Homo sapiens: one gene and its partner. The protein of the gene in region 2 purifies or fractionates together with the protein of the main gene of each other region. This does not show direct contact. Each region holds a gene or a part of one and is shown on either strand. Other genes may lie near its edges.

Region 1 (3,819 bases), on a different chromosome or scaffold from region 2:
CTTACCCAGCCTGTGGAGCCCATGACTTACCACTGTTTACATCTTCTTTCTCTCTTCTGCTTTCCCCCTGCTTGGTAACTGGGCTCCCACTACTTATCATCTCACTGGCTGGTGCTAGCTGGTGCTCATTAATTACCCCAAGCAGGAAGTGTAGCCATCTATTCTTTCAGAGCAAGGCAGACAAAAGAAAAGTGTGCCAGGTTCACCCAACCCAATGCACCTCATGTCCTCTCTACCCTCTCTCCTCCTCCCACTCTGGTTAGTATGCTCCCAGCACCAACTCTTGCATGTAGCCAGTTCCTGAACAGTACCATCCTGACTTAACAGGAGGAAGAAAAGATAATGAAAGATTTGTGGGGTCAGGGAAGCAGAGAACCACCCTTGTTTAGAGCCTGACAGGAGTCTCAGACATCTAAGGACTCTTAATTTAAAGGAGGAGTCACTGGAAGAACTGTGCGTGATTCCTATGTCAATCTAGGTCTCAAAAAGATGCATCATTTACCTGGCTCAAACAAAGGATTGTACAAACAAATCAAAAAATGACTTGATGAAATGATTTAATAAAATAATTATCACATGTCAAGCATTTTTATAATATACATAGAGTCTTTAGTTCTATTTGACTGGGTCATAACATTTAAGAATTAAGTGATATCTCCATGTAGGATCCTTAGAGACGACTTGTTTCGGGGCAGGATGTGGTCAGGGGACATGCCATTGAAACAATACCCCAACTTGTCTTCCCACTCAATGACATTTCAAAATCAGAATAAACCCAAGAAGCTAAATAAAAACAGACTTACCCAATATTGCAGGAGTGCTTCTATAGCTCTAAACTCAAAAGGTAAAGGGTATGTAACGAGTTGACCCTCTCCAGACAACTGTGAAGGGAGTTCCCGGAACAGCCATTGCTCTAAGTTTAAATTACGATAATCTAATATCAGAAGACACTCTGGAGTTATCACAGCTTTCAAATACTGTTAAAAAAAAAAAAACCAAAACATATAAATATGTGAGTGTATATACACACATGCATGTATATACATATATATGTATACATACATATATATATGCAAATTGTAGAGCTGTAGGAAAAAAGAACATTCATAAAATTTGGTTTAATACTTTACTAATTGTGGATTAAGACTAAACCAAATCAGTGTTCATTTTTGTTTTTCAAAAAAATCAAGGTTTTTTTTTTCAAAAGAAAAGAAACTTAAAAAATATATGTCTTGATACTGCTAACTCACTCTCAATAAAACTGGAATTATTCACATAAATTATATATTTACTAAGACTTCTGGGGTAATCATGAAAAAAAAACAAAAACAAAAAAAAAAACACCAAAAAATACCCCCAGAAAGCCGGGCATGGTGGCTCATGCCTGTAATCCCAGCACTTTTGGAGGCTGAGGAAGGTGGATCATGAGGTCAAGAGATCGAGACCATCCTGGCCAACATGGTGAAACCCCGTCTCTACTAAAAATACAAAAATCAGTTAGGCGTGGTGGCCCACACCTGTAGTCCCAGCTACTTCAGAGGCTGAGGCAGGAGAATCGCTTGAACCTGGGAGGCGGAGTTTGCAGTGAGCTGAGATTGTGCCACTGCACTCCAGCCTGGCGACAGAGCGAGACTCCGTCTTTCTTTTTTGGAAAAAATAAATAAATAAATAAAGGGAACAAGATAAGGTCTTCCTAAAAGTCAGGTATTGAGCAGACTTTTAGAAAAGATTTAGTTTAATCATAATTAGTTTGGCACAAATGGAAGTTTCCTTTTTAAAACACCACTAAAGCATATAAACAAAATCTGAAATTAAGATGAAACATAGCCTTACTACTCTAATTTAGAACAATATGAAATTAGAATTTTTTCTAAAAAGACTGGTTATCTTGTATGTTAAAAGTAGATAAAGGTAGCCACTTTATCAGTGATATAGAAATTAGAGATAATTTTCTATTTTTACATTTTTCCAACATTCTATCATGAATTTTTTTTTCTTTTTTTTTTTTGAGATGGAAGTCTTGCTCTGTCACCCAGGCTGGAGTGCAGTGGGGCAATCTCGGCTCACTGCAACCTCCACCTTCAGGGTTCAAGCTATTCTCCTACCTCAGCCTCCTGAGTAGCTGGAATTACAGGCACCCGCCACCATGCCTGGCTAATTTTTGTATTTTTTAGTAGAGACGGGGTTTCACCATGTTGGTCAGGCTGGTCTCGAACTCCTGACCTCAGGTGATCCACCCCTCTCGGCCTCCCAAAGTGCTGGGATTACAGATGTGAGCCACCACAACCTAGCCTCATGAAAATTTTTATACAGAAAAGTTGAAAGATTGCAGTGAACACCATATACCCACCAGTTAGATTACACAATTATCATTCTGCTGAATTTGCTTTTTCACATACCTGTCTGTCTCTCCATGAAAGAGACACTGTTTTGAAGAATGCTAGCTACTGATTCCAAGAGTAGAGAATATTTCTGAAGAAAATCACATGGGAGAAGACTGCTTCATTTTTGATAAAGTATTTTTTATTTACTTATTTATTTTTAGAGATGGGATCTTGCTATGTTGCTTAGGCTGGTCACAAACTCCTGGTCTCTGGTGACCCTCCCACTTCAGCCTCCTGAGTAGCTGGGACTAAAGGCACATGCTACCAATACTGGCCCATTTTTTATTATTTTGATTAGTTCTAGAAAAATGAACAAAAATCTGCCATCAAAGACTCTTTGAAGAAAGTCTCATACCCACTACAGGGCCAATACCATTCATCTATTTTTGAACCTAAACATTAGCCCACCAAAATAACTGAAACCCACATTAACTCTGAATCACTAAAGAAAGTCAAATTATTATTTGGCATGCTCTGAATAGGTAAGGGAAAATACAATATATTTCAGAAAGTTTTCCATTAAAAAAATTTAAACTGGCCAGGCACGGTGGCTCATGCCTGTAATCCCAGCACTTTGGGAGGCAGAGGCAGGTGGATCACCTGAGGTCGGGAGTTTCAGAGCAGCCTGACCAACATGGAGAAACCCCATGTCTACTAAAAATACAAAATTAGCTGGGTTTGGTGGCTTATGCCTGTAATCCCAGCTACTCAGAAGGCTGAGGCAGGAGAATTGCTTGAACCTGGGAGGTGGAGGTTGCAGTGAGCCAAGATCGTGCCAGCCTGGGCAACAAGAGCAAAACTCCATCTCAAAAAAAAAATTAAGGCTATAAAATTTAATGTCTATTCCTGTGCTATTTAGAAAGCCAGAATACATTTTTGGTAGCTCAGGTTATACTATAATTACATGTAACTGTACACAATTGGATATATATCTATTATAAATCAGGATTGTCTTATAGTTTCCAGAACTAGAGAGTAAATCCCAACAGTGAGAATGAACACCACAGTCAGAGCTTTTCCAACTTAAAACACAGCAGTGTTATGCCTATTGAACATGTGCATATAATCCATATAAAATGAGTTCTACTCATAATAGCATATTAAGCTATAAAACATCCTATGTTTCAGGTAGCTATTTCTATTCCAAAATTACTTTTAACCTAGATACTAATCAAGATAGTTAGAAGGTAACTTTTATAAGATTGTATTGGAGAAACATAGATGAAAATAAAATATTTTACCTCCATTCTCATGATAATCCTATTGTTTCTGACTGTGATACTCATTACATGCTGAAATCTCAAATCTCTGGCTTGAAGACCTAACTCTTGGTATAATTCAGTTTTCTTCCTTTCTATAAAAGAAATAAACAGAGAGGGCTAAACCAAATACATTAAATGGCTTAGATTTTTCCATCAGAGCAGTCCTCCCACCA
Region 2 (3,819 bases):
AGACAGGCTCTGAGAGGAGGGAACTTGCCCAGGTCACACACCCGGGGTTCAGGGACCTACAGTGGGACCTTGGCCTTACACATCCATCCTCAGGAAGCCCTGCTTGCTTCCTGTTTCTCTGACCACAGCTCAGGACTTGTTCTAGACCCTGCTTTCTAGAAGCACAGTTCTGGGTCCCCACCTGCGACCCTGCCTGGCCCAGCTTGACTCCCATCTCTCGGATTTATTGTGTTGGCACCAATACCATTATATGTCCACAAAGGCTCCAAGGCCCACACTTTCCCTTGTCCCCTCCTACCCCTGTCCCTCCTGCACACAACTGAGCCCACAACACCAGCTCTGTGCTCAGTCAGAGCTGGGCTCCGGGGACCTGCAGAAGCTTAGACCTGCTCCTGCCTCAGACACCAGCTGTTTTTGGCTCTCACCTCTGTGGCCAGCCCTAGCCCACTGGGCACAGCTGGAGCCCTGCAACTATTGTCACAGCCTGGAGGTGACTCTGCCCTCCCCTATGTCTCCTAACACTGGCATGTGCTTGGGGGATGCCCTGAGCACTCCAGCCCTTCCCAGGTTTGTGGGTCACATAACAGGTGTTTGTTTTTCTGAATAACCCTAGAATGAACATTTGGAAGACAACATTCTTGCACCTTAGCTAGATGTCTTTTCTGCTGCTAATTTCCCAGCGATGACATCATTGGCTCCACGCACAAGACCAGCTGCATTCTCAAGGTCACCCTAACTCACAGGAGTGGATAAGAGCACTGAGTCACATCTTGCTCCACCTCTGCCTCATGTGTGACCTTGACCTCTCTGGACCTCAGTGTCCTCATCTGCAAAATGGGGTAGTAGTCCCCACTAATAGGGCAATTGTGAGGACGGCTCACAGGGGTGAAGAAACCTGTTCACTCAGGAAATGAAGTTCTCTCTTTGCAGCCCTCCCACCCTAAGGACAACCAGCAAGTCCTCATTCTGCTTCGTTTTCTTCATTTCTGAGGTCTCACTCTCTGACCCTTGTGTGAAAATGGCACATCCCAGTCCAGGGGACACAGGGCTGCTATGTGCAGTGGTGCAGGCTGTGCACTGCACAACCCTATGGGGTGCCATCCACATCACAGACACGGCAGAGGTGCACATTTGTCACAATACTGTTCCAGAGGAAGGTGCCTTGTGGGCTGGTGGCAGCCTTAGAACCAGACTGATTGAAGTCAAAACCCAATTTTGTGACCCCCAGGCAAGGTACTGAACCTCTCTGTGCCTCAGTTTCTTTTTTTGAGACAGGGTCTTGCTCTGTCTCACAGGCTGGATTGCAGTGGCATGATCATAGCTCACCGCAGCCTCAACCTCCTGGGCTGAAATGATCCACCTGCCTCAGCCTTCCAAGTAGCTGGGACTTCAGGTACATGCCACCATGCCTGGCTAATTTTTTATTTTAGTAGAGATGGGGTCTCGCTATGTTGCCCAGCCCAGTCTCAAACTCCTGGGCTCAAGCAATCCTCTCACCTTGGCCTCCCAAAGTACTGAGGTTTTTGGCATGAGCCACAGCAACTAGGCCCGCCTCAGTTGCTCAATCAATAAAACGGTAATAAACCGGGCTCAGTGACTTATGCCTGTAATCCCAGCATTTTGTGAGGCTGAGTTGAGAGGGTCGCTTGAGGCCAACAGTTCAAAATTGGCCTGGACAATAAGTGAGACTCTGATTCTATGAAAAATAAATTTTAAAAATTAGCCAAATTAGCCAGGCATGGTGGCACGCATCTTTAGTCTTAGCTACTTAGGAGGCCAAGGCGGGTGGATCGCTTGAGCTCGGGAGTTCAAGACCAGCCTGGGCAACATGGAAAAACCCCATCTCTACAAAAATAAAAAAATTAACCAGGCATGGTGGCATATGCCTATAGTCCCAACTACTCAGGAGGCTGAGGCAGGAGGATCGCTTGAGCCTGGGAGGTTGAGTCTGCAGTGAGCCATGATGGCACTATTGCACTGCAGCCTGGGTGACAAAGGGAGACCCTGTCTCAAAAATAAATAAATCAATAGATAAATAAATAAAAACAAAATGGTAATAACCATCCCAACCTTGGCGGATGCCCTGATGTGCAATAGACACCAGCAATGCTGATTTTCACCCCTTCCCTTTGCTTTTCAATGGTGGCAGGGAGACAGGAGGGTTTCAGGTGGGACTTTATGAGTGACAATTAGAGCTGATATTCACTGATACTGTCTATAGGTCAGGCACTCTACCAAGCACTTTCCATTCATTAACTCACTTAATCTTTAACCTTTTTCACCCCCGTTTTATAGATGAGGAGCCTGAGTGCCTAGGGAGGTTGAGTAATTGCCTGGGGCCATACGAGTGAGCGGGATTGTAACCCAGGCAGGCTGGCTGCAGAGGGCAGAAGTGTGACTCAAGCTGGAGGGGCTGGCTATCGGCTTGGGAGGCCCCCAGGCCCATCCTGGCTAAGCGAGGCCTTACCTCCACAGTGATGGTGACATTGACTTTGGTGCCGAGGACAGGCTCGCCGCAGTCAGACACAAGCACTGTCAGCACAATGCGGCCCTCCAGGGCGGGGTCGATGGCCTCTCTGTCCAGGGGCCCCAGGTTTCTGAGGAGCCCTGTGTCAGGGTCCAAGGAGAAGTTGTGGCTGTAGGGGCCAGGCAGCAGGTTGAAGAGCAGACGGCTGTTGTTGGTGCCCGGCTCATCATTGTCGTGGGCCTGTGCACGTAAGCAGGGGTTGGTCATCGGCCATCGGCATTCCCAGCCCCCAGCCCCTCCGATGCAGCCGGACCCTCCTCTCCAGCGCTGGCCCACGCAGGCAGTCATCAGGCCTGGAGCCCCTGGGCCCATCTCCCAGCCCCAGTTTCCCATCTAAGAGGCTCAGGTCAGCAGTTTGCAAGAGCTTCTGAGATCTTCAGCACTGAGGCCATTCTTTCATCTCACAAACGGCCACTGTGGACCTACGTGCCCAGCCCCGTTCCAGGTGCAAAGAAAGAATAGAGCCATCATCAAGACAGGCCCTTTTGCTACTGATATTCTAGCAGGAAGGGGGATATGGGGGCAGGAAATTGTAGACAAAGAAAGTTTTAAACTCATAAGTGTGAAGTCCAGCAAGATTCTCATTTTCCCATAATGACTACTTCAGTGCTATATACATATTTTTTCTTTTTTCTTTTTTCTTTCATACAGTTTCGCTCTTGTTGCCCAGGCTGGAGTGCAATGGTGCGATCTCTCTTGCTCACTGCAAACTCCTTCTCCTGGGTTCAAGTGATTCTCCTGCCTCAGCCTCCTAAGTAGCTGGGATTACAGGCACCCACCACCACACCAGGCTAATTTTTTGTATTTTTTAGTAGAGATGGGGTTTCACCATGTTGGCCAGGCTGGTCTTGAACTCCTAACCTCAGGTGATCCACCTGCCTCAGCTTCCCAAAGTGCTGGGATTACATACAGGCGTGAGCCACCACGTCTGGCCCTTCTTTTGTTTTGTTTTGTTTTCTTTTTTTTCTTTCTTTCTTTCTTTTTTTTTTTTTTTGAGGTGGAGTCTCACTCTGTTGCCCAGAGTGGAGTGCAGTGCCATGATCTCAGCTCACTGCAGCTTCCAATTCCTGGATTCAAGTGATTCTCCTGCCTCAGCCTCCCAAGTAGCTGGGATTACAGGCATGCACCACCACACCCAGCTAATTTTTGTAATTTTAGTAGAGATGGGGTTTCACTATGTTGGCCAGGCTGGTTTCGAACTCCTGATCTCAAGTGATCCACCCACCTCGGCCTCCCAAAGTGCTGAGATTACAGGCAGGAGCCACCATGCCCGGCCGTCAGCGCTATATGTT

Evidence for each region.
Region 1: the proteins of CDHR2 (region 2) and MRS2 purify together in Homo sapiens (affinity purification with mass spectrometry; one large-scale study listed by BioGRID and IntAct). This does not show direct contact.

What each region holds. Positions count from the first base shown.
Region 1 is NC_000006.12:24,409,380-24,413,198, reverse strand, and holds part of MRS2 (magnesium transporter MRS2 homolog, mitochondrial isoform b precursor), read right to left. Parts: intron 3,739-3,819; coding exon 3,626-3,738; intron 2,473-3,625; coding exon of another isoform or gene 2,400-2,472; intron 978-2,399; coding exon 804-977; intron 1-803. UniProt on the Homo sapiens protein: Magnesium transporter that mediates the influx of magnesium into the mitochondrial matrix and regulates magnesium metabolism. Also permeable to calcium, sodium and potassium ions.
Region 2 is NC_000005.10:176,580,231-176,584,049, reverse strand, and holds part of CDHR2 (cadherin-related family member 2 precursor), read right to left. Parts: intron 2,708-3,819; coding exon 2,468-2,707; intron 1-2,467. UniProt on the Homo sapiens protein: Intermicrovillar adhesion molecule that forms, via its extracellular domain, calcium-dependent heterophilic complexes with CDHR5 on adjacent microvilli. Thereby, controls the packing of microvilli at the apical membrane of epithelial cells.